Regions from separate parts of the Homo sapiens genome. Here regions 2, 3 and 4 are each linked to region 1. Evidence: fine-mapped expression QTL. A gene starts in region 1. Each other region holds a variant in brackets. All regions are shown on one strand. Distances are from middle to middle.

Region 1 (5,146 bases):
AGTGTTATAAGGGTAGGCATGAAGCAATTTCTACTGAAACTTAAAATGCATGTAATTCTTGACCTGGCAATTCTCATGATTTACTGAAAGGCACTGCACACGCAAGAGCACATGGAGAAGGACATCTACCGCATTGCTTGGAGCAGTGAGGCGGGACGCAACCTAATGGTCATTACAGGAGACCGGTTCAATGTGAAACAGACATGTATGATCAGATATGGACAAGTCTCCAAGATCTAGATAGATACAAGAGGCAGGACAGGGACTATACAAAATCAATCTATTTCTAAGATACTTATGAAAAACTATCTAAAGGTAAACAAAAAATAGTTGACGACTGTCTCTGGGGAGTGGAACTGGGTTCTAAGATATGCAGAAGACCCGCTTCTCATCACAGGGCCTTCATGCTGTTCAAATTTTTACCTGTGTATATGTTACCTTCTTTTAAAAAACATTTTAACCCAGTTTTCCTGAGATGTGAGTCTATAGAGCTGCCTACTTTGTGGCGACAACTTCTAAACTGTCAGCAGGGCCAGCTTAGAGAAGCATGGGGAGGAGAGGTGGGACCAGGGAGGGTCTCCTGGAACCTCTTTCATACTACTGAGGCAGAAACTTCTCCAAACCACAGGAGATAAAAACCATATTAGGAAGAGAAAGAAATCAGGAGGCACGCTGAAACCTCTGCAGAGCCAGAGGGCCAACCCTCTATCCCCTGGGGGATAGGCTGTTAGAAGAAGGACGATTACCATCTACCTCTGTTAACTCTCCAACAGGAAATCAACAGGGGACCAGTCAGCAGGAGGTGCTAGCAGAGAGGGGAACTGTCTCCAGAATCTTCCTGGCCCGGACTGTGTGAAACTCAAGTTGCATGGCTTTAAAACAGGCTCCTAACTCGGCGCCGGCTCTCTGCACCGAGCTCTGATCCCCAACACTGTTACATCCCAAGGTGTCCGCGCCAGGGCTGGCACGGCCTTGGGGCCCTGCTGGGGCTAAACCCTCATCTCTACATGTGGGTCAGGTCTCCCCGGGTGTCATTTGAGGTTACAAAGGACTCAAACACAAAGCAGGAGCAGTCATAGGAAGTAACCCAGAAAAAACCAATGCTTTGGATTTTGAGAGTCAATCACCCACCCACCACCAGAAGCCAAAGTTATCTTCCCGGCAGGTGAAATGGGCAGGCCTGTGGCGGTAGCTCCGGGAGGTGTCAAATCAAAGGCCGCAGAATCTCCATACCACCCTGCCCCCGCGCACCTCTATTTCGTGGCTGGCTGGCTGTAGGCTCAGCTCAGGATGGGTCCCAGGGATAATCCTGGGGCGGAGGAAGGAGGAGGTGAAAAGGGTGGAAAGGATGTGAGCTCCAAACTGAGCTAGAGAAAAGACCTAGGAGGGGAGAAGAGGCCGGAGGGAAACAATAAAAAGCAATAAAATGAAATGGAAAGGGAAGGGACTCGCCAGGTCAAAAAGGCAAGGGGGTCGGTGAAGACCACAGCTGGCTAGGCGGGAGGAAGGGGGGCACCACGGCGCCACACCAAGGGAGAGTGGATCGCGACCTGCTGATCCCGCCAGATCAGTCTATCAGGAAGGCCCCGAGCCCTGACCCCAGCGACAGCGGCGAAGCTCGCGTCTGGAAAGGGGGCTCGTGCCCGGCACGAGCCGACGGCCCCCAAACTGCTAAACAGCAGCAGCCCCCGCAGCATAACCAACTCCACCCAGACCACCGGGCAGACCCGCTGCCGGGCGCTTTCGAGGAACGCGGGTGGGGAAGAGGGGGAGCTCTGAGTGCTGACATTTGCAGTGCCCTCCCAAGCGCACAACAAGCCACAGGGTGCAGACTCCTGCAGGTGGTGACTCTCCCGGTCCCAGGGTGTAGGAGGGCGCCCCGGCGCAGGGAGGGGACCCGGGGGCGCCGGAGGGGCGAGCGTGGCAGGGACCCCGAGCGCTCACCTTTGAGGAAGTAGACCCGCGGGCCGGCGGGTAGGCAAGCGAGTAGCGAGGTGAGGACGACACGCGCGGCGCTCTCCTCTCGCAGCTTCTGCCAGTGGCGGCTGCCCTGGTCCAGCACCACCACGGCCGCGACGCCGCCGCCGCCCTCCTGCAGGAGCCGCGCGCGCGCCGCCTCGTCGGGCAGCACGTAGCGCGCCGACACCGCGCCGCCCCGGGCCCGCCGCAGCACCACCGAGTTGAGGTTGACGTTGAGCGAGCCGCGCACGTTCGAGGCAGCGAAGGCCAGATAGGGCCGGCAGTCGAGCACCACGCAGCGCGCCGCCGCCTCCTTGCGGAGCATCTTGCGCAGCTGGCGCCCGTCGAGCGACGTGACCTTCATGCCGCCGCCGCCGCCGGCCAGCGGCCCCGCGCCGCGCGCCCCGCGGGTGCCCACGGCCAGGGTGTCCACGGCCAGGGTGTCCGCGGGCGAGGCACGGGAGGGCGACCCGCGGGGCTGCGGCCGCGACGGAGCCCGGCGCCCGAGCGGCGGCGCAACTCCGCGTTCCCGCCCCGCTCGCTCGATAGCCAGCCCGGCCGCTCGCCGCCCTAGAAGCCGGGGATTCCGCCGGCCGCGCAGCGTTTTATGTGAATGAGTGCCGTCCGTGACGCGGCTGCCCATATAAGGCCAAATATGGGTGTTTCCCCGCCCCTCGGGCCGTGGCCACGCCCTGCAGGGGGCGGGGCAGCGGGGGCGAGGGACGCGCGGGGCGGGTGCCGGCGTTAGAGCGAGAGGAAGTGGAAGGCGCCTCTTCGTTCTCTCTTCCGCGCTTCGCTGAGGGACTCACTCGCGCATCACCCGCGGCTGCCGGTCGAGTGTCCCAGGCGCTCCGGGGCCGCGGTGACCCTCGCGGTGCGGACCGAGGAGGAAGCGCCGTGGGGGGCGGGGCGGCGCCGCACGATCCGGCCTTCAGCTTCACGGACGTGGGCTGAGAACCCGCCCGCGCCGCGCTGAGCAGGGCCGAGGGAGCCGGCCAGGGCCCCAGAGGAGTCCGGAACGGATTCCCGTCGCTACCGAGGTCTGCGCGTGTAAGGAGAGGACGTCGGAGATTTGCCTCGAGGGGTGGGGTATAGATGACTGGAGAGGTCAGGCGCGGGTTGGTCATCGCTGAGGCTGGGTGATGGGTGGCCGGATTCGTTATACTGTTTTCTCCACTTTTCTGTATGTTTGATATTTTTCATAATAAAGTTTGTAAAAGTAAAAACGGGGGTTGGGGGTCGGCGGTGAGAATAGCCATTTAATCTTCCTAAATGGATTCTGCCCTCAAAGGATTGACGCTCTTTTCTCTGTCACTCTCCAATAATGATTAGAATAATAAGTTGTATTTTGAGGAGCTGTTTTCTGGTCCCGGGGAGACCCTTGGTGAACTCAGCAGTACCATCAGCATGTATCCCACGATGGAGCTCAGTTCAGCCAACTGTTGTCCAGGTGGCTTCTGGATTTGGGGGATTATCTATGGATCAAGTTTAATCTCAGGCTGTCTGCCCCCACCGGTCCCCAGGGGCTTCAGGCCTCCCACCCCTATTCCTGGGGAAGCAGACACAATTCACCCATTCAGCAAGCATTTATTGAGGGTCAGCCGTGTGCCAGGGCTTTGCTAGCTGCGGGGACACATGGATGGAAACAGGTTTCTGCCCCCAAGCTCACTGCCAACCATTTTATTGTTAGCCTGGCTGGGACTGCTTGATGGAAAACAGTCTGCCCGCACTAGACAAGGGCTTGTTGACAACTGACATAAGGGAATGAGGTTTTCAGAAGGAAGCAGAGATCAAATTTTGAAATCAGATGCAATCAAATCAGACACCAGGACAGCCAGCATTGCCTCTGGGTCACAGATGCATCCACCCAAAGGCGCTGTCCTCGCCTTGCCAGTGGGGTCTTGGTGAAGACGTGATGCGGGGGCCTTCTTTCTTTTTGTGGTTATCTGTGCCAGCCTTCCCTGCAGGCTGCTCTTCCTCTAGCACGTTCTGTTTCTGTTACCGGCTCTTTCCACCCCCGGCATCTCCGCCTAGAGCCACACACATACGCGGAGCACCCACGTGGGCCAGGCTTTGTTTTGGGGCTGGCGGCACCAACGTGAGTAAGACTTATACTCAGCCCCAGCTGCCCCCAGCCCAGAGGGAAGGGGAAGGCCTGTAGTCCGTGGGGAAGAGCGCCCAGTAGGGGTGTGGCAGGGTGGGGCGTGGGCTGGAGAAGGCCTCCCGAGGAGAGGAGAGCTGAGGCCAACTCCGAGGAATGAATTGTAAGCCAGGCTGCGAAGCAGGAGGGGAGATTCCAGGCAGAGGAAACTGCTTGGGGTAAAGAAAACAAAAAACGCAACCCCCCCAGCATGGTGCGTACTGGAGGTATGTGGGAGACTAAGGCCCTTCTGGTATTTATTAGCAGATTAAGCAGGGTCAGGCAACAGAGGGCCTTGTGCTGTTTTGAGTCATTTGGGTCTTAGTCTTTGGCCGGGCAGTCCCCAACGAGGGATCTTACTCAGTGACAAGATCCGGATAGCATTTGGGAACATCGCTGAGGCGGCTCTGTGCGGGATCGGTGCTTTATTTGAGAGTGGTGGTGGGGTCCGGAGTCTGGGGGATGGATGGGAGGATTTCATGGGTAATCTAGACATGAGCTGATATGGACTTGCCAGAACTTGGCAGTGACAGCAGCTATGGGGAGGCCATAGGAATGGGAGCACATTGAGGAAGTGAGATGCTGGGAGGGGTGAGATGGGGAGAGAGAACTGGAGAGGGACACCAAAGATTTTTTTGTTTCCGGATTTTTTTTTTTTAGATAGGTTCTCGGGCCGGGCGCGGTGGCTCACGCCTGTAATCCTAGCACTTTGGGAGGCGGAGGCAGGCGGATCACCTGAGGTCGGGAGTTCGAGACCAGCCTGACCAACATGGAGAAACCCCGTCTCTACTAACAATACAAAAAAATTAGCCGAGCATGGTGGCGCATGCCTATAATCTCAGCTACTTGGGAGGCTGAGGCAGGAGAATCGCTTGAACCTGGGAGGCGGAGGTTGCAGTGAGCCGAGATCGCGCCATTGCACTCCAGCCTGGGCAACAAAAGCGAAACTCGGTCTCAAAAAAAAAAAGCTTGTTCTCACTATGTCGGCCAGGGTGGGCTCAAACTCCTGGCCTCAAGTAATCCTCCCACCTCAGCCTCCTAAAGTGC
Region 2 (5,146 bases), 50 kb after region 1:
GTGTTCTGATCTTTATGATTTCTTTTCTTCTGCTAATTTTGGGTTTGGTTTGCTCTTGCTTTTATAGTCTTTGAAGCTGCATTGTTAGATTGTTCATTTGAAGCTTTTCCTCTTTTTCAATGTAGGCACTTTTAGCTATAAACTTCCCTCTTAGTATTGCTTTTGCTGTATCCCATAGGTTTTGTTATGTTGTTTTTCCATTATTATTTGTTTCAAGAAGTTTTTTCATTCCTTTTTTCTTTTTCTTTCTCTCTTTCCTTTCTTTCTTTTTTTCTTTTCTTTTCTTTTCTTTTCTTTTCTTTTCTTTTTTTTTTTTTTTTTTTTGAGATAGGGTCTGGCTCTGCCACCCAGGCTGGAGTGTGGTGGTGTGATCTCGACTCACTGCAACCTTAACATCCCACCTCAGCCCCCTGGGAATACAGGAGGAAATACAGGCATGTGCCATCACACCCAGCTAAGTTTTGTATTTTTTGTAGTGACAGGGTTTTGTCATGTTGCCCAGGCTGGTCTTGAACTCCTGAGCTCAAGGAATTGGCCCACGTAGGCCTCCCAGAGTGCTAGAATTACAGGTGTGAGCCACTACACCCGGCCCAATTTCCTTCTTAATTTCTTCATTGACCCACTGGTCATTCAGCAACAGATTGTTTAATTTCCATATATTGTATAGTTTCCAAAATTCCTTTTGTTATTAATTTCTAGTTTTATTCCATTGTGGTCAGAGTAGATGCTTGATATTATTTTAACTTTTTTGAATGCTTTAAGACTTATTTTGTGACCTAACATATGGTCTATCCTTGAGAATGATCCATGTGCTGAGGAAAAGAATGTATATTCTGCAGCTCTTGCATAAAATGTTCTGTAAATATCTCTTAGATCCATTTGGTCTATAGTGCAGATTAAGTCTGATTTTTCTTTGTTGATTTTCTGTCTGGAAGATCTGTCCAATGCTGAAAGTGGTGTTGAAGTCTCCAGCTATTATTGTATTGGGGTCTATCTCTGTTTTTAGCTCTAATAATATTTCCTTTATATGTTTAGGTGCTCCAGTGTTGGGTGCATATACATTTTAAATTGTTGTATCCTCTTGCTAAATTGACCCCTTTATCATTATATAGTGGTCTTCTTTGTCTCTTATAGTTTTTGTCTGATATAAGTATAGTGACTCCTGCTCTTTTTGGTTTCCATTGGCATGGAATATCTTTTTCCATCTCTTTATTTTCAGTCTGTCTGTGTCTTTATAGGTGAAGTGTGTTTCTTGCAGGCAGTAGATCAATGGGTCTTGTTTTTACATCCATTCCAGCAATCTGTGTCTTTTGATTGGAGAGTTTAGTCCATTTACATTCAGTGTTATTATTGAAAGTAGGGACTTACTCCTGCCATTTTGTTATTTGCTTTCTGGTTGTTTTCTGGTTTTCTCTTCTTTCTTTCCTTCCTGTCTTCTTCTACTGAAGATGATTTTCTCTGGTGATATGATTTAGTTTCTTACTTTTTATTTTTTGTGTATCCATTGCATGTTTCTTGGTTTGAGGTCACCATGAGGCTTGCAAATACTTTCTTGCATGATTTTTAACTTTGTTTCATCAGTTATATTTACATCTGTGAGAGCTACCACAAACTGAAGGTACTTTTTCATCAGAGTGGTTTGGTCAACCACCACGGCTCCTTGTGTTGCAACAAATGCCATTTTTCTTTTGAGCTGGTTTGTTTCTCGAGAAAAGTATCAGGTCCGTGAGTTCAGTCAGCCCCAACCTCAGTGGCCTGGCTCCCACAGCCCTATCCTGTGACTGCCTGCTGAGCCCTCACCTCTGTTGCTGCTCCACCTTGCACAGTCCCACCCCATACAAGAGTTCATTTCTTAAAAGGACATTGTCAGGATTAAATTAGTTTCTATATTTAAGTGTCTCAGAAAAGTGCCTGACACATAGAAATAGCTCAATACGGGTTAAATATTATCAATATTCTCCCACCCCTACTTAGGGTCTCTTCTGTACAAAGGATCTCATTGCAATATGAGTGAGGAGGTCAAACATCATTCGGTAATGTTCTGGTCTAGGACAAAATTTAGAACTGAGTAATTTTTGGCAAGTAGTTTAATATCTTTGAACCTCAACTATGTCTTCCATTAAAAACAGATTTCTAGTTACCTTTTAGGGTTCATGTGAGAGCTCAGTAAGAAAATGGTTGGTTAAGGCAGTTATGCCTACATTAAGCTATTTTGCCTACCACAATGGTAAAAATTATGTACACATTTTAAAGATTTGCATTAAGATTAAAACCAAAAAAGGGTTTCTGCAGCTCATCTCCACTTAAGTGGGAATTTCTGGGGACCAAGACCACTCTCATCCCTAGTCCCTATTTCCTGACCTCTCCAGATCTGCCCACATGGCCTCTTTGGCATCTTGACAAAAGCACTCATTGGGATGAGGTTCTTTGTTGCAGTTGCCTGTGGACACAGATGGTCTTTTCCAGCCAAAGAAAGACAGGAGAAGCGCAGGCCCATGTGTGGCTGCATTGGTTTGCAACAAACAAGATTCATTCATTTGGTCCTTCATGCATTCTTTTTCTTTTTTTTTCTTTTTTAAAATAAGACAGGGATCTCACTATGTTCCCCAGGCTGGTCTCCAACTCCTGGGCTCAAGTAATCCTCCTGCCTCAGTCTTTCAAAGTGCTGGGATTACAGGCGTGAGCTACTGACCCTGGCCATACTTTCTTTCATTCAATAAATATTTATCAGTGGCTTACTCTGTGCCAGGCATGTGTGAGGACCTACGGTTCAGAGGTGAACAAGGGAGATATGTCTCATGAAACTTACATTTTAATTGGGGTGGTGGGTGACAATGGTTGAGGAATCAAGTCATATCTTTGGAAACTGGTAAGTATTAAAAAGAAAAATAAAACAAGGCAATGCTGAGAGAGAGGCTCTAGAGATAGGGGAAGAGAAATGGCAACAAATTGGA[C/T]GGAGTGGTCAGGGAAGGCCTCAAAGAGGAAGTGACTCAGGCAGCATCTGCTGTGAGACAGGAATCTGGCTCTGCAGCAACATGGGAACACAGCATTCTTGGCACAGATGCCCTGGGATGGGAATGAGGAGGCCAGAGTGCCAGGAGCTTTGTGGAAGAGGCAGGCAGAAGCCGAATCTTGGGACCATCCTTTCTCACCTTGCATGGCCCAACAAGTCTGTGTAGGGCCTTTTCCAGGAAGGCAGAGCCTACCCCTAGCTGACTCTGTGTCCCTTCCTGTGGTTGCCTCACTGGTCCAGTCTCACTAGTCCCTCTGGCTCCCTCTGGCTACTTCCGGCTTCCTCTGGCAACAGACTACTGGGGGAGATAAGTGAGAATTGCAACATGCTCTCTCATTACCCTCAAGGAACTAGAAAGATAGAATCTCTACGGACCCCACAAGACGACTGATACTACAGACTAGACAAGAGCACCAGGTGAGGGCTGAGGGGAAGTTTTGGGAGGTGTGCATGACCACTGAGAATGGAGGGTGGAGGTGTCAGAGAAGTGAGAAGAGCTCAGCCTGGACAGAGGGTAAGAACGAGCTGGAGATGGGGTGTGGATGGCAGTCCACATAGGAGGAAGGTAGAGCAAAGGAGTCCTCATGGGAAGGAAAGGACTAGGCAATCATACTCAGATCAGTTTGTCTCGCCCTTGGGCTGAGCCACTAGAAATGGAAGAGAAGCTTGGAAAAGGCGAAGGAGACACTCAGCCTTGGGAAAGTAGTCAGCGAAGTGGCATGGAGCATTCTGGACACAAATGCCCAAAGACAGGAATGAGGACTCTGGAGCTACACTACTTGGGTTCAAATTTGAATTCTGTTGCTTACTAATGCTGGGACCTTGACAAGTTACTTAACCCTTCTGTGACTCAGTTTCTCCATCTGTAAAACAGTGATCATAACAGTACCAAATTCATTTTATAAAGTTTAAATGAGTGAATAGTTGCAAAGCACTTAGAATAAATAGTACCTGGCCCAGAATGATGTAAGTGTTGGCTAAATTAAATGAATGCTGGTGAGCAAGTGAGACTCTCATTCTGAAGCCAATGGGAAGCTCTCAGATGTTTCTGGGCTGTGCCATGCATGGAGGAAAAGAGTGCTCTGCTCTAATTCATCTGGTGCAGGCTGGATTGGAGGTGGACGGCCTGGGATCAGGAAAACAAGTTAGGAGTCTACTGCAATAGCCCAGACATGAACACTGATTGGCTGGTAGCAGGGCTGCTGGGGAGAATAGAGGGGATGGAAGGCTGGAGGTTGCTGCCGAAGGAAGTGCTCCTAACATCTGGTGTCTGGAGACGGGACTGGGGGTAGTGGGGTACAGATGGAGGAAATGGAGGCCTTGAGCTTGAGTGATGGGGCGAATGTGGGGCTATGTCAGAGAGGGAAGCTGGAAAAGTCATCTGGTTTGGAGGAAGATGGTGCCAACACATGGACGTGTGTTGCCTTTGAGGCCATGGTGTGCCCACAGTGTTCTGGGTGTGATTTCATATCCTGGGTCTGAGGAAAGGAATCCTAGGGGGTTGGATTCTGGCTCCTAGAGAGATGTGAGAACGAGAGTTTCAGCCCTGGCCTCTGCTCACCTGTACACCTGCACGTGTTTGGAGGAGGGTAGGTAGGCTGGGGACAGGCAGTAAATATTTAATGAGGCTGAGTCCACACATCCTCTGCATACTGTATTAAAAGGGCAGTCAGGAAAGGAAGACCCTGCTTGTGTCCACCACTCCCAGACACTCGGTAGTGACAGTGGTCAGTGCTCTCCTTACCCTCACCCCATTGCAGGGGAGAGGATCTCACAACTCAGCCCAAGGCTGACCACACTCCTCCGACTCTCACCTGGATAAGGGTCCCAGCTGGGGTCCAGGGACAGTGGTTGGGACCAATAGTATTTGACTACTGGTTTCTGTTAACAAGTGTTGACTGGGTACCTGCTTCGGGATCCAGTGAGCACAAAATGTCCACTAACCAATGGATTTTTTGAGCATCTCCTCTGTTCAAGCTCTGTATAAGGCACGGGGCTCAAAGTAAAATTAAATGCTTGGTTCCAGAAACCGCATTAGCCTAGGTTTTTGTTTTCCATTTTTAATTATTAATGACAGTAGCTTCAATATAGATATCAGAGGAATGTATCCTTCTAGTCATGAAAATCTTGTTT
Region 3 (5,146 bases), 71 kb after region 1:
CCAAGCACTCAGCGAGTGCAGAGAAAGAAGAGATTCATGCTTACTGGGGACTGGCGGGGGAGGCTCCAAAGCAGGCGGTAACATTTGAGCTGGACCCTGGTGGAGGAATTCAACTTTGACATTCAGAGAAGGAAGGGAGGGAAGGGAGAGAATACCAGGCAGAGAATGCAGCATGAGGGGAGCCACTGAGATGGGGAGAACATATAGTAGGAAGAGTGAGTGGGCTGATGTGGTCACAGCATGGGGTGTAGAAAGGGACACGGGAGTGATGACGCAGGAGAGGGCAGCTGGGGACTCTTTACTGGGTGCTCACTGGAAAATAGCCAGAAGTCTGAATGGGGCATTGGCTTTAAGAAGGTAACCCTGGTGACAGGTGACAGGGCTGGGTGGATTAGAGAGATGGTAGCTGGGTTAGGAGATGACTAGATCCAGCCAGGCAAGAACAGTGAGTCACTCTACTTCTCTGGATCAGTTTGTTCCTCTCTAAAATGTAGATAATTATCCCTCCCTGACATCTGTCCCAGGCTGTGGTGAAGATGAAAGAAAAAGGGAGATGGGAAACAGTGTTGGTGAGCCCCAGGGGACAGAGGGAGGGCTTTGCAGGTAAGGGTCAGAATTGGGAAGCTGGAGGCTGTGTGACAATGATGTGCCCTGGCTGGTGACCCCAGTGGCATGGCTACAAGACACAGCAGCATCCAAACAAGATACAGGCCAAGCATAGGAGGGGTTTCAGTTCCCAGGAGGCATCTGCATCTGAACTCAAATTGAGAGAGAATGAGAAACCCCTCCAAACCTACCTGAAGCGGGACTACAAACTTAGCTGCTTCCCCATTTGAAGGGGTTCTAATGGGTGGAATTCTGTTTCCTAAAGGGCCTCAGCGGCACCTGTCCTGAGTCAGCATCTCACAGAGGTTTTGCCAGCGCCAGCCACATCTCCAGCATGAAGGTGATTGTCTGAGTGTGTCCAGTCCAGTTCCTGCCTTAATAAAAATCACTGCTGCAAGGGAGAGGGCTGCCAAGGCCCTGCCTCCCTCCAACCCCATCCTAGCCTGAGTCTTAACCATTCTTCCAATCCAGTTCCACTTTGGGCCAGTGCTTAACCCAGGGTAGCACTTTTGAGCCTCGCAACTCTTGGGAGTGAGTTTTCATCCTAACGTTCTCAGATGAGGAAATTGGGCCTCAAAGAGTCCACACAGGTGAGGCACCATGGCTCATGCCTATAATCCTAACACTTTGGGAGGCCAAGGCAGGAGGAATGCTTGAGCCCAGGAGTTCAAGACCAGCCTGGGCAACATGGTGACACCCTGTCTCTATAAAAAAATACAACAATTAGGCAAACGTGGTGGCATGCACCTGTCATCCCAGCTACCTGGGAGGCTGAGGTGGGAGGATTGCTTGAGCCCAGGAGGCTGAGGCTGCAGTGAGCCATGATCCTGCCAGTACACTCCAGCCTGGGTGACAGAACAAGACCCTGTCTCAAAAACAAAACAAAACAAAAACAAAAACAAAGCATCCACACAACTAGCAGGTGAAAAACTGGGGTTCAAACTCAGGCCTATAACACTAAGGGCTGGGCCTGTCCCCACCAAATCAGTCTTTCCTCAGACAGGCTGAGGTGTCCTCTATAGACCAAATATCTGGAGGTCAGAACACTGAGACACTAGTTATGTAAAGGCAGGGTGTGAGTTGGTGAGCTCATCGAGAAAATGCTTCCTGGGCTGGGTGCAGTGGCTCACACCTGTAATCCCAGCACTTTGGGAGGCTGAGGTGGACAGATCACCTCAAGTCAGGAGTTCAAGACCAGCCTGGCCAACATGCTGAAACTCTGTCTCTACTAAAAAATACAAAAATTTGCCAAGCGCAGTGGCACATGCCTGTAATACTAGCTCCTCGGGAGGCTGAGGCAGGAGAACCGCTTGAACCCAGGAGGCAGAGGTTGCAGTGAGCCAAGATTGCACCACTGAACTCTAGCCTGGGTGACAGAGCAAAACTCTGTCTCAAAAAAAAAAAAAGAAAAGAGAAAAAAGAAAGAGAGAGAAAGAAAGAGAGAGAGAAAGAGAAAGAAAGAAAAAGAAAGAAAGAAAAGAAAGAAAGAAAGAAAGAAAGAAAGAAAGAAAGGAAGGAAGGAAGAAAGAAAGGAAAGAAAGAAAGAAAGAAAGAAAGAAAGAAAGAAAGAAAGAAAGAAAGAAAGAGAAAGAAAGAAAGGAAGGAAGGAAAAAAGAAAGAAAGAAAGAAAGAAAGAAAGAAAGAAAGAAAGAAAGAAAGAAAGAAAGAAAGAAAGAAAGAAAGGAAGGAAGGAAGGAGAAAATGCTTCCTGGAGAAGACAGGAGGACGGAACAGGCAGGCCAGTCAAGGCCTGGGCTGCTCTGGGCCCAAGCTCTGGGCTTTCTCAGTTCCCAAGAGAGTGGCTTTTCCAGAGAGACACAGTCCTGACCCAGGCCTGGGCCTATGGCAGTAAGTCCAGTTCCCTCTTCCTACTCAGATTCTCCCAGGGTCTCTGGATTCCTTTCAATAGGACCCCCATGGGAGAGGGGACAAGGCCTGAGTCTTGAGAATCTGGGGAGGGGCTGAGACCCTGGGATCCTCCTCCATGTGTGTGTGTTTGGGCCTCACAGATCTGGAAGAATATACGCTATCCTGAGACCTTTGATGTCTACATAAGCTGCTTGTTCTCACAATAGACAAATGCTACCTTCCTGCCTCTACCCCCGAGGCCCGTGGGTCCTGGTATGGAATGTGTGGGCCTGACTAGCTGGGGATGGGTTCCACTATTCACATTACTCAATGACACACTGGCCTCCTGGTGGAAACTTCCCCATTTAGTGGAGAGACCACACCTTTGTTTTACATTTGTGTAACCCCGACAAAAGGCCGTAGGTCTCCTGGGAGTATGACCTTGGCTGTAGAATGACCAGGCTTCCTTTTCTTCTCCTTTGGTGGTTCTTCTTCTTTTTAACCCTTCTACCTTCTCCTGCCCTCACCGGTTCCAAATGAGGTC[A/T]CCATTCCAATGACGTCTCTCCACCAAAGCCTTGCCAAGACCCCACCAGCTTCCCGTTGCATGCCTGACAGAGGAATCCCCACCCGCTGGGCCCTCATTCTCGTAATCACAGCCCACTCCCTCCCCAAATGGGGCCAGAATTGCTCTGTTTGTTTTTGCTTTGGATTTTATTAAATTTTTTATTTTAAGAGAAGTTACACATAAGCATAGATTTCTCAGAAATGTACAAAGTTAGTCATGAACAACTGCAGCCCTGACCCATCTCCAGGGTGGCCACTTTCGACTCTTGAAACGGATTCTTTGGAATGTTCACTTTCATGTCTCTAAATAACATCTCACATAGTTTCTTCTTGATCTGTGTAGTTTTAGGAGTTTTTTCTTGATTTCCTGCCCTGGGAGACCAGGAGTTCTTTTAGCTCCTGTTGCCTCACACCCACCCCCGCCTCTCTCTTCCCAATACAGCCACACCGTAGAGGGTAATTTTGATTATATCGCTATTCTGTGTTGACCTTTTCTGACTATGTAAACACTATGGCTGGCTGAGCCATATGGTAGACTAGGATAATTTTTTCCACCTTTCTTTTAAATCTGGGCAATAACCAGTTCGTGGGCAGCCTCAGACATCACAGCCTAGCAATGGTTTGGTTCATCTGACCCCGGCCACTGACATCACCAAACCAACCCCTTCACTGCTTCTTGAGAAACATCTGTGGTCAGACTAATGGTAACTTTACCAAGAAGACATGGTCCAAAAACTCACTGGTATCTTCTTGCTTTATGTGTCACAAGAGGCCACTGAATGGCTGCTCTGAGGTGGATGCTGAGTCAGAGTGAGTGGTTTGAATTCAGCTTCTGCCCTCTGTGGCTATGTGAACTTCGGCAAGTTACATGTCCCCTGTGAGCTTTGGTTTCTTCATTTGTAAAATGAAATTGAAGGATGGAACCGCCTACTGATTGGGATAAACTGAGATGCACGTGTAATGTACAGAGCACATAGAAAGAATGACAAATGGTGGGCATTATTATTACTACTGGGTTAATTATTCGTAGGGGCTCTTTTAGTGAATATTCCAGAATGAAGAAACAGCATGCTTCAGAAACATTCAGGGTCGGGCACGGTGGCTCACGCCTGTAATTTCAACACTTTGGGAGGCCGAGGAGGGTGGATCACCTGAGGTCAGAAGTTCGAGACCAGCCTGACCAACATGGTGAAACCCCATCTCTACTAAAAATACAAAAAATTAGCTGGGTGTGGTGGCAGACACCTGTAATCCCAGCTACTTGGGAGGCTGAGGTAGGAGAATCCCTTGAATCTGGGAGGCGGACGTTGCAGGTTGCTGAGGTCACGCCATTGCACTCCAGCCTGGGCAACAAGAGCAAAACTCCATCTCAAAAACAGAAACAACAAAAAACCCATTGAGGACTTTTAAAGTAGTTAACAGTCATGTGCCCCATCTCCCTAAGCACACAGCCCACTTGAGCCATCTCCGAAGAGCACAGTCTGTGCCCGGGCACTAAGGAGGGCCTTAGCCAGGCACTGGAGGATGGAGGTGTAGATGGGTGGGATCCCTGGACACAAGGAAAGGGACTGGTCTTCCCCACTCCTCCCTATTCTGTTTTTTTATGGTGTCACTCAATTAATTTGGGTTTACTGGGGACATCGTCCTCCAACAGGGACCTATGTCATGTTAGTCTCAGCTACCTCTGGTTGCACCTTGGAGAGAGTTGACCACCTGACCCCTTCCAGCCCCTTTCATATTTATTTGGGAGGGGGTGTTCATCATATATAGTATGTGCTAATTTTAAGAGATTCAAACAGTGCAGAAGTATAAAAGAAAAAATTTAAGATCTTTTTTCTACCTTAGAGGTAAATGCTGTTAACAGTTTGCCATGTGTCCTTCCAGGATTTTATTTTCCATGCTTTAAATGTGCATGGGGGACCGTGCGCCATGGCTCACACCTGTCATCACAGCACTTTGGGAGGCCGAGGCAGGTGGATCACTTGAGCCCAAGAGTTCTAGACCAGCTTGGGAAACATGGTGAAACCTTGTCTCTACTAAACCTATAAAAATCAACTGGGCATGGTGGCACACACCTGTAGTCCCAGCTTCTCAGAAGGCTGAGGTGGGAGGATGGCTTGAGCCTGGG
Region 4 (5,146 bases), 78 kb after region 1:
CTATGTTACCCAGACTGGTCAGAACTACTGGGCTCAAAGGATCCACCTGCCTCAGCCTCCCAAAGTGTTGGGATTACAGGTGTGAGCAACCGCACCTGGCACTCACTTCTTAAAAGAAAAGAAAAGAAAAGATTGCAGAAATATCTAAATCTAAAGTAGAGGAAGAAAACCAGCCCCCATCCCAGTCCCAGACATACCGTATTGTATGATAAGCTCAAACTACACAGACTGACCTGCACCTCATTTCTTCAAGGAGATGTCTTTGAAACAAAAACTGATCATGTCCCTTCCATGTTTAAATTACTCCCACGGCTTCCTACCACTCTCGGATAAAGTACACTCCTGATCTTGGCTATCAGGCCCTACCAGCCTCTGCTTCAGTCTAGAGCCTCCCCCTCCCAGCCACACTGCCTGCTTTCAGGCTCCTGTCCTCCCTCTTTCTCCACCTCTTTTCTTCTCTTTCTTCCTCTCTTTTCCCTTTTGCTTTTGCACAGGTGGAGCCCCTGTCCCACCTGGAGTGCTGTTCACCTGGTGACCTTCTGCTCCCCTTTCAGATCCCAAATGACTTCCTCTGAGAGGCCTTCTCAGATCCCCCTGCTTGTGGAAAGCCTTGCTTCCTCTTGTCACAGCTGCAATTTTAAATTCACATCTGACTCTTGTGTCTTGCTTCCCAAAACCATCCAGTTCAAGACTAAACAATTTAAGGGGGCAGAGCTCTGTTTTGCTCAGTATCCTCTCCCAGTGCCTGGTACATTGTGGATGCTCAATAAATACTTGGATGTATGGACATAGTAAGTACTAATTATCTGATTGCTTACATGGGCCAGCACAATGCTGGGCATGGGGGAACTCAGGGGATTAACACAACAAGGGCAGGTTCTCAAAGGCTGGGGGTTAGCAAGCCAGGGATGAGGCAGGCAGGGGTTTGGGTAAGTGCTAGAATGTGATGTCAAATGGTTACAAGGGCATGGCTTTCAAGGTCCTTTTGTGATGTTGTTAAGTCATTGCCTGATTGTCTTCTCTACTGTTCCTGTTAAACACAGGCCCCTGGAGAAGGGAGTCTTTGCTTCTACTTTTCTTTCCTACTTCCTTGCAGCCCATGGCCTCCGTCTTAGCACTTAGGCCAGGCCAGAGGTCTACAGAATGTGTGTATTAAAATACTGGATGGATGGATGGGTGGATGGATGGATGGATGGATGGGTGGGTGGATGGATGGATGGATGGATGGGTGGATGGATAGATGGATGGATGGATGGATAGATGGATGGATGGTTGGATGGATGGATGGATGGATGGATGGATGGATGGATGGATGAAAGAGCTAAAAAAGCTAGCAGGGCCTCAGAGATCCTTTATTCTCACTCTGATTTTTCAAATGAGAAACTGAAGTGTAAGAGAGGTGGAGTACATCCTTAGTCACTTCCTCTCTTTGAGAACTTATATTGATTTTTTTTCTTTTCAGTCTATAAACATGTTGAAATATCCTTCACTCTAAACAAAACAAAACAAAACACCTCTTTCTCTCTTCCCTACAACCTTTCCCTTGAGCTAGGACTTCCCCCTTTCCTTTCACTGCCAAACTTCTTGAAGATCTTACAAAATTCACCCACTGGACTTCCTCATCTCCCATTATCCCTGGACCTCTAGCTTTTGGCTTCTGTCCACATCACCATGGCAACAGCTCTGAAGTTGCCACTCACCAGAGACCTTCTAGGCCTGGAGCCCTTCCTTGGCCCAGGTAGTGTTTGGCACTGTCGCCACATGTTCTCTGAACCCCAGAGGCACTGCTCTGCACAGGGGCCACTCTTCCTGTCCAGAAGGCTGCTCTCTTCTGGGACCTTTAATGGCACCTCTTCCTTCTAGCACCTTCCACCACAGCTCTGGCCTCAGCCCCTTCTTTGCTCTCATTCTGTATTCTCTCAACATTACTGAGTGCCTCTGGGTGCCTGGTGCCATTCCAGGCTGTTGGCTGCATTACCTTGTGTAATCCTTACGCTGACCCTCTGACACAGGTGTATTAGTGTCACCCATGCTTTACAAGTAGAGAAGCTGAGAAGCAGTGAAGATAAGTCAATCACTCAATCCTACACAGTTGGTAAGTGGCATCTTTGGGACTCGAATAAAATCTTGCTGTTTTCAAGCCTGTACTCTTGGCTGCGAAGCCACAACTTTTTCTTAGCAGTCTCAGCCACACTCAGGCCTCGCATCTCTTTTTACAACTCTCAAGTTAGTATTTTTAAAAGGAACCTCCCTTTGGAATGCCAGGTTTGCTCTTCCAAAGTCCTGGTGAAATTTGTTCTTAGATATCCCTTTAAAATCTCCAAGCCAGACTCCTCAGGTCTTTTGCTCTCTTGATCTAGGGGCAAATCCTTCCCTGCCACCCTCAGGCTCACCTGCATTGTCAGCCCCCATCCCTGCCCCTTGCCCAGTCTGCCATGATCTCCTCCTGTCTCCTCTTGCGTCTGACCTCCTCTCTGTGTGTTCTGAAACAGTCTGGTGCTCCCTGCAGTTCCTTCTCTGCTGAGAGAGGACCCTCCCTGGATTCCCTTCCTTCATTTCCCTTTGACCACTAGAAATCCTTCGTATCTAGAAAATAGGCGGACAGGAAATGTTTTAAACATCAACAGTGGTTACCTCCAGATGAGGGGGATCCAGGTGACTTATTTTCACATCTGTTCAGTATTTTCCAAATTTCCTATAATGAGGATGTTTTACTTTATAATCAGAAAAGAACTTGTTAAGATAATTTCAGAAATTAATCTTATTCATCTGCCCTGCCCACTTCCTCTTTGAACCCCGTCTGTAGCCTGGTTCACGTGACACCTCCTTCAGGTCCCACTGG[G/T]GCTGCCTTGGCTACTTGAGAGCTGGGCATTTGTTCACACACGATGATCCGCTTGGTCCCTGCAGCCTCCTCCAGTGCCCTGGGTGTACCGGGGCACCCCACAAATGCAGGAGAAGTAGTTAAAATAGACATATTCAAAAGAATATTCATCAAAGAAGTAAGAGACTGGAGACCCTTTAAATGTCTATCCAGAGAGGCCTTGTTAAATAGCACATGGGAGGTCTGGGGGCTTGCCTATACCCCTTAGAAAGAAAGACATAGTGTGTAGTAAACCACCATGGCACACATTTACCTATGTAATAAACCTGCCCAGCCGGGCGCAGTGGCTCACGCCTGTAATCCTAGCACTTTGGGAGGCCAACGCAGATGGATCACAAGGTCAGAAGTTTGAGACCAGCCTGGCCAATATGGTGAAACCCCATCTCTACTAAAAATACAAAAATTAGCCGGACGTGGTGGTGGGCGTCTGTAATCCCAGCTACTCAGGAAGCTGAGGCAGGAGAATCACTTGAACCCAGGAGGCAGAGGTTGCAGTGAGCCGAGATCGCGCCACTGCACTCCAGCCTGGGCGAAAGAGCGAAACTCCATCTCAAAAAAAAAAAAAAAAGAAAAGAAAAGAAAACCTACACATCCTGCACATGTACCCCTGAACTTAAAATAAAAGTTGAAAAAAAAGAAAGTCATAGATCCCAGCTGCCAATATGAACCAACTTCCAAAAGATGGTATTAAATTAAAAAAAAAAAATCCAGTAAAATGTACATAGAATGTTCCTATTTATTTAAAAAATAAAAGGATAGCCACATACACACACATATATGTATGTATAGATACCTAGAAGAACTTTTTGGAAGGATATCCTCAAACTGGTAAGAGCAATTGCTTTGGGAAAGGGATGGGGGACAGGGGAGCTGGATAAAAAACATCAGAGGAGGTATGAGCATTGTTTCTGTTCAGTTTAAAAAACTGTTTGCATTTACCTTTAAAAGAAGAATACAACCAAAGGGGCTGGGCGTGGTGACTCATGCCTGTGTCCCAGCACTTTAGGAGGCCGAGGCAGGAGGATGGCTTGAGCCTAGGAGTTCAAGACCATCCTGGGCAACAAGCTGAGACCCTTATCTCTACAAATTTTTAAATATTAGCTGGGCGTGTTGCTCAGGAGTTCGAGGCAGGAGAATCGCTTGAACTCGGGAGGCAGAGGTTGCAGTGAGCCAAGATCACACCATTGCACCCCAGCCTGGATGACAAGAGGGAAATGCCATCTCAAAAAAAAAAAAAAAATTAGCTGGGTGTGGTGGCAGGTGACTGTAGACTCAGCTACTCAGGGGGCTAAGGTGAATGGATCGCTTGAACCTGGGAGGTCAAGACTGCAGTGAGCTGTGATCATGCCATTGCACTCCAGCCTGAGTGACGGAGCACGATCTTGTCTCCAAAAAACAAACAAACAAAAAAATACAAAAAAAGAAAAACAACAAAAAGCAACTTACGATTGGTAGGTGCGTAACCTACCCAGAAGCCCACAGCCATGAAGTGGGAGGACCCCCAGGCACTTTGTACCACTTCTGAGGCCTCCTCTCTCCCCTTTCCCTTCTAATGGTTCCTTCCCGGGGCAGGGGGATACCAAACAAAATCCCCCCAATCCATCCCTGCAGCTGGAGTCTGGGCCCTATTCCAACAAGGACCCTTGTGCACTGAGGCCCCGTGAGATGGTCCCCAGCAGGAACCCCAGGCTGAGTTAGGGACAGATTCCCCCAGCTCACCGTGTGCCCTCTCCTAGGGGAAATAACTCCTCCCCAAAGCAGGCTGGTCACCGCAGGTTTGTTGGCACAGGCTGATGTGCTGCGCCCTTGCTGGGCACTCTTCTCAGGGTGGAGAGCACCAGCTGACATCAAGGTGGTGACTCAGCACCTTAGCAGCTCCTCCTCCAGAGGAAAAAGCCTTGCTGGCACGTGCTGGGCATGATGGGTGGGATGTGGTGGGAAAGACAGCCTGGCCTGGCCTGGCTTCTCCACCGGTGGGGATACTGTGGGCTTGGCCTTGGCCAGAGGGCTCTGGGCATCATTTATCTCCCCCTGCATTCAGGTCCTCCCTTAGGGGGCAGAGATTGGACTGGGCATAGCCTTGCAGGCTGCCAGCCAGGGAGGAAATTGTCCTCAGCATAATAATAATTTATACATCTTTATAGCCTCTTATCTGCAGATCTCAAAGCACTGAAAAGCTCAGATATTGTTTGTGGAGTGAGAATTTGCCTGGACCAAGAGCTCTGCAGCCCAAGTCAAGACCAGCTGAAGCCCTCTTGCTCACAA

Evidence for each region.
Region 2: its variant is fine-mapped to the expression of DUSP5 in whole blood (TOPMed, PIP above 0.99).
Region 3: its variant is fine-mapped to the expression of DUSP5 in whole blood (INTERVAL, PIP above 0.99).
Region 4: its variant is fine-mapped to the expression of DUSP5 in whole blood (TOPMed, PIP above 0.99).

The regions. Positions count from the first base shown.
Region 1 is chr10:110,495,299-110,500,444 of GRCh38, reverse strand. It overlaps DUSP5 (dual specificity phosphatase 5), which reads right to left and starts at 2,538. Exons shown (of 4, transcript NM_004419.4): 1 at 1,945-2,538. The coding sequence starts at 2,323. It overlaps DUSP5-DT (DUSP5 divergent transcript), which reads left to right and starts at 3,963. Exons shown (of 2, transcript NR_187547.1): 1 at 3,963-4,057. RefSeq lists silencers at 1,812-2,081, 2,202-2,261, 2,332-2,471, 2,482-3,011 and an enhancer at 3,493-4,016.
Region 2 is chr10:110,445,379-110,450,524 of GRCh38, reverse strand. It overlaps LOC105378482 (a long non-coding RNA gene), which reads left to right and starts at 3,089. Exons shown (of 4, transcript NR_188210.1): 1 at 3,089-3,430. The variant C/T (reference allele first, on the strand shown) is at 2,955.
Region 3 is chr10:110,424,736-110,429,881 of GRCh38, reverse strand. LOC105378482 (a long non-coding RNA gene) reads left to right here. Exons shown (of 4, transcript NR_188210.1): 4 at 872-1,042. Among named protein-coding and RNA genes, the nearest start is that of DUSP5-DT, 69 kb to the left of the region's middle. RefSeq lists enhancers at 374-473, 484-733 and a silencer at 3,810-3,859. The variant A/T (reference allele first, on the strand shown) is at 2,999.
Region 4 is chr10:110,417,133-110,422,278 of GRCh38, reverse strand. No RefSeq gene overlaps it. Among named protein-coding and RNA genes, the nearest start is that of DUSP5-DT, 77 kb to the left of the region's middle. RefSeq lists an enhancer at 4,222-4,722. The variant G/T (reference allele first, on the strand shown) is at 2,843.